Regions from separate parts of the Homo sapiens genome. Here region 2 is linked to region 1. Evidence: fine-mapped expression QTL. A gene starts in region 1. The other region holds a variant in brackets. All regions are shown on one strand. Distances are between the middles of the regions.

Region 1 (2,932 bases):
TGGTTGACTGAATCTGCACCGGAAACAGACATGTTAATCAACCTAGTTAATTCACTGTGGTAATTAATTACTGAACACTTATCTAATTAGCTAACATTTTTACCTCTCAAAGCCAGAGGTAAATGCCAGATTGAAATTGGTGGTTCTCCTCATTATACCTTAAAAATAAAATTGAGAGATATGGCATGGAATATCAAATAAAGGTGTGCTGGTGCCAGCAGTAGTGAGTGAGTATGTTGAGTCTCAAAATTGCCAGTGGTTCCTGGGAAGGAGCAGCAGGTAGACCAGCCTGAGATGAGTCAGGAGGTAAGAGACAGATGTATACAAGCTATCAACAAGAACTACTGTTCTAAGTTACAAAGGCAACACACATGTTAAAGACTATTTTGCCTCATAGTCATCATTACCTTTTCCAGGATAAGTGTCCTCAGGAATTTTTTGCTATCTGGGCACAGTTGCAAACGTCTAGTTGGTGGTAACAGTGGCAAGATTTAGGCTACATGGATTCCCCAATATAGAGTCCCCTATTCTTTTTCCTTCCTATTCTGTAAACTTTGCTGTCTGACCAAGATGGACCAAAGGAGGCCAGTGGGGCATTCAAAGAATTTGCCAAGAATGACTGTCACCAGGAAGAGGAGCATCTTCTAACATGGAGAACTCAGTTAGGATATGAGCACTTGATTCTTGACTGTGATGCACATTCTTGGAAAGAAATCCAAGCATATTAGGAGGTGTCTTGTATTTGCTGCTGTTTGGCATTTATAGACATTTTAGGTTCTGATTTGCCTGAAAGCCATGAGACTACGTTCTTGAAGCTCTCACCAGCATAGAACTTCAGCTGATTGCTATGGGAGTGAAGAGAAAAAAGATCAGGATGAAGTTGTCTAGTTTTCTAGATTTTTCTGTCCCAAAAGTGAAAAGTGAGAAGCATTAGTGAAAGTAGTGAATTCATGCCTTTCTTGGCAGAGACTCCGTTTTCTGAAAATACTATGCTGTATTATTATTCCATGTGGATTAACCCCTGGTTCAATAAATTTTACCAATGGCCTACAGTTTAACTAAAGAAAGAGGCCCTGGGAAATAAGTTTTGTTTAATTATCAGTTCTTCTGTGTGAACTGGAATGAGCAAAGTTCAGATAAAGGGACATTCTGAGGTCCAGACTTTGGATGCTTCCCTAACTTGTGATGACAAAGAATGAAAACAAGTTGGCGAGGGGCTGGATGGAGATGGGGAACTGAAATGTTTGAGAACTGAAAGTTCTCGTATGTACTGGACACAGTTTTGAGAAGACCTGGTAGGTGTGTTATAGAAACCAAAAGAGGACTCGTATCCATATACAGTTGTCTCAAAGCAAATAAGCCTGTTTGCAACATCAAACCTGTGTTGGGATCAAGGACAGATGTAAGGGAAAGTTCTCACCAATAGTTAACAAGCTAACCAACCTGGTCAAAGAGCTAGGATGCCACACCTTCAAAGGGGGCCTATCTTCTTGAGGAAGTGCTGCTCTGAGAGCTGGGCTGTGGTATAAAAGTCATGTCAGGGAGGACATCTTTTATTTGATAGGAAAATTTAAAATGCTAAAGGAAAAATTTTCTTAGCAATTTCACAGGAAAACCTAAGTTTTAAGAGAGGTTATCATTCTGACTGGGAACTGAACTATTATGACTAGGTCTATAATTTAATAACAAGTCACAATATCTCTCTTTCTTGACATCAATTTAAGGTGACTTTTCACATAGTAGAGAGAATGGCTTCAGTTATACCTGCCTCCAATAGGTCCATGAGATCTGACAGGAATACATATGTTGGGTGAGTAATTTTGATTTTGTAAATTTGTTTTGATCAGATGGTTGCTCCTTGGATTTTGTATTAAATGATTAGATAATGGGCCTCTACAGTTAAGCAAATTTCTTAAATGTAGAGATTATATCACTGGATGCAGCTCATAAAGCAATAAAAACAGTGGAAAATGTATTTTCAATGACATTTTTACTCCTTGGTTTTGGGGGTTAGGGTTTGGCTCATCTAAGAAAATGGGGCAAAATAAATTATAAAAAACATGCAAAAGTTTAGCCAACCTTCAGTAGTAAACAAATTCAAGGTTCAGCCTGGGACTCACTATAGAGTTCAGCCCTTAATTCTAAGACCATGGGCTGCAAATGAGAAATAATTAAAAGGGCCTCCCAGTGCCTGAGGGAGGTTTAATTGTATTGCAGGATATTGTGGAGTGATTTCATATGCTTCATGATGGACCTTACATAGAATTTACTTCTGAAATACCGTCTATGTGATTCATCTCATGGGTAGATATAAAATTGCTGAAGCTGTCTACAAATTTAGCTCCAGTTCCTGCCCCAGGTTAACAGAACACAACAGAGCATTAATCATCATGAGGCATAAGGAGATTTTGCTGGTTCCCTCTGATTTCCTGAGAGTTGTGTGAAATGTCTTGCTTAGAGCCTCCATTATGTCAGCATTTCAGAAAACACTCCATTTGCCCATCCCAAACAGAGGTAGCCTCCTGCATGTTCCCTTCTTCAGGGAAGCCCAGGAGAAAAAGAAAAGGAAAAATTATGAAGATGAAGGTAATGGCAAATGGAAAGACTTCTGCTCAGCCAGCACTTTCTTTTGGTTACCAATATTTAATACTCATCATGTAGTGTAATTTGTCACGATTTACTAAAAAGACTATTCTATGTGTTAGGAAAAGGAAGAAGAGTTTGAAGATTCAACAACACATATAAACCTATTTAGTAAAAATTATATATTTTGGAAAAATCAAATATTCCAAAAACTACATTCATATTGGGTAGAAATTTGGCATGAAATCCCAAACAAGTTTTTTCTTTGGTACTGATAAAGTGATCATCTTAGAAGTGCTTCTGGATGAGCCCAATGAAACAAGAAACTTCTATAGACAGTCCCCCAAAT
Region 2 (2,932 bases), 64 kb after region 1:
AGTGCCAGCAAGGATATAGATAAATTGGAACTCTTGTGCATTGCTAATGGGAATGTAAAATGGCAAAGCCACTGTGGAAAATAGCATGGCAGTTCCTCAAAATCTTAAACATAAAATTACCATATCATTTACCAATTTCACTTGAGTATATTCTCAAAATAATTAAAAGTAGTGGTTTGAACAGATATTTGTACATCAATGTTTATAGCACTGTTATTATAGCCAAAAGGTGAAAACAATCCAAATGTCCTTTGACAGATGAATAGATAAAAAAAATTTATATATATATATATACACACACACAATGGGATGTTTTCAGCCTTAAAAAGGAATGAAATTCTGATACATTCCACAACATGGATGAACCTTGAAAACATTATGGTAAGTGAAATAAGTCACACATAAAAGGACAAGTATTATATGATTCTGCTTATATGAAGTACCTAGAATAGACAAATTCATAGAGAAAAAAATTAGAATAGTGGTTACCAGAGGCTGAGGGGAGGAGGTGTATAGTTTTTGTTTAATGGGTTCAGAGTTTCAGGTTGAGATGATGAAAAAGTTCTGAAGATGAATAGGGGTGATTGTTGCACAACAATGTGAAAATACTTAATGCCACTTAACTGTATGCTTAAAAATGGTTAAAATAGTAAATTTTATATTATGTATATTTATCACGATAAAAAGTCAATGTCTTGAAAGACAACAAAGGCTGTAGAAATGAATCAAATTAAAGAAGAACACAAAAGCAATTTAAAAGTTGAATAAAATGTTAACAATGGGAGAATCTGGGGTAAAGTTACAACAATTTTATTCTTGCGGCTATTCTATAAAGTTATTTCCAAATAAAAAAAGTTTTTAAAAATGAAGAAAGAGATTAAAAGAATTCAAAACAAAGTGACAAATAAAGACTACAGACAAAGAAGATCCAACATAGCATAATAGCATAATAACAGTCCTGGGGAAAAAAGGAAACATAACAAACACTAAAAATTATAATTTTACAAAATTCCTGAAATAAAATTGAATTTATATTGTGAAAGGGAATATAATTTACTAAGTATATTAACCCAGAATGACAAACACAAAGTCCAGTAAAACTGCTATATTATAAAGGAAGTGAAAAAAACTCTAATTAGGCAAAAAGATCAAGTGATTCTTAGGGAAAGAAAACCATGTTATAGCCAGCCCTTTGACATTTTATGCTAAGAAAAGAAAATGTAAATAAAGTATCTTAGACCCAGGAAAAATTTATTTTCAACTATAAAGACGACCATCAACCTGTTATTAACATTCAAGGACCCAGAAAATATTGCTTCCATGACTAATTCCTAAATAATCTTCTGGAAAACAGGCTTCAGACAACCTAAATGACAAGAGAGAAATTGACATTAAAAACTGGCAGTATTGGTAAATATATATTTACTAATAGAATAAGATTCAATCATGGATAAAAGAGAGTGTGTATAATGTCTACACAGTCCCTC[G/A]CAATATAGATAACAAAAAGAAAAAGAATAGAAAAGGCATAATAACCCCAAATTTTATTATTTTTGTTTTTATTATATTGGTATTTTATTCTAAGACTTTTGTGTGGATAATGTAAATGAGTAATTATGTCATATTCTAACATCCGTGTGTAATTGGGCACCAGAATTGTCAGTAAGGAAAAAAGAAAATACAAAAGTAACATACAAGATATCAAGTGAAAATCCTATGGAATTTGAAGTAACAGAATAAATAAAAAAAAATTTTATCTTTAGATAATATAAGCGTATGTCTGGATTTGTTGGGTTTTTTTTGTTTGTTTTTGAGGCGGAGTCTTGTTCTCTCACCTAGGCTGGAGTGCAGTGGCACGATTTCGTCTCACTGCACCCTCTGCCTCCTGGGTTCAAGTGATTCTTGTGCCTCAGCCTACTGAATAGCTGGAATTACAGGCGCTCTCGACCACACCTTATTAATTTTCATATTTTTAGTAGAGACAGGGTTTCACCATGTTGGCCATGCTGGTCTTGAACTTCTAGCCTCAAGCGATCCACCTGCCTTGGCCTCCCAAAGTGCTGGGATTACAGGTGTGAGCCACTGCACTTGGCCTGTTTTGTATATATGTCTGTACATGTATATGTATATGTGTATGTATATGCATATGTATGGGAGTGTGTGTGTGTGTGTGTGTGTGTGTGTGTGTATTTTCTAACCATGCTCATTGAAAAGGTCTAGAATAGAAGATCAACCTAGTAGCAATGTGTATTCTTTGTCTCCAAATTTTGGTTTTGAAATACGATTTTCCAATAAAAAGAACCAAAGCTTCTCAGAGAAAAGGTTAGTTCCAGGTCAGAGCAAGAAATATTCAAAATGAGCTTAAAACATCTTGTTATGCCCGATAACAAACATGACAGATTTCAAAAAGTGGCTGCAAAAATATTTCCTATTTCACATACTTTTTTCCAATGTGACCTTGCCATCAATAAGTGGACTTTTTCTCAGCCTTTTTTAATCTGGGAGAGTTCTATGACTGCTTTGATGAAAAGAGTATGGAGGAAAAGACCCTATCCCAGTTCCAGCAGTAGATCTTAACTGGTCTAGCAGCTTGCATTTTATACCTCTTAGAATGTTTGCTCTTGGAAAATTCTATCTTGGAACCCAGCTACCATTCTATGAAAAGCCAAGCCATCTTGAGAAGTCATGTGTAGGTGGTCGGTCCCATTGACAACCTCAAATGAGCTGCCAGCCAACAACCAGCATCAACTGCCAGTCAGGTAAGTGAGTCCTCTTGGTCATTCAGCCAAGTTGAGCTTTTGGATGACTACGTCCTCAACTAGCAATTGACTACAAATTTATAATATACCCCGTGGTAGGCAGAAAATGTCTCCCAAAGATGTCAATTTCCTAATCTCCATAATCTGTGAATGTTATGTTACATGGCAAAGGGTAT

The links.
Region 2: its variant is fine-mapped to the expression of UPP2 in prefrontal cortex (BrainSeq, PIP 0.95).

What each region holds. Positions count from the first base shown.
Region 1 is chr2:158,100,316-158,103,247 of GRCh38, forward strand. UPP2 (uridine phosphorylase 2) reads left to right here and starts at 1,561. Exons shown (of 7, transcript NM_173355.4): 1 at 1,561-1,810. The coding sequence starts at 1,749.
Region 2 is chr2:158,163,968-158,166,899 of GRCh38, forward strand. It overlaps CCDC148-AS1 (CCDC148 antisense RNA 1), which reads left to right and starts at 2,683. Exons shown (of 5, transcript NR_038850.1): 1 at 2,683-2,756. The variant G/A (reference allele first, on the strand shown) is at 1,488.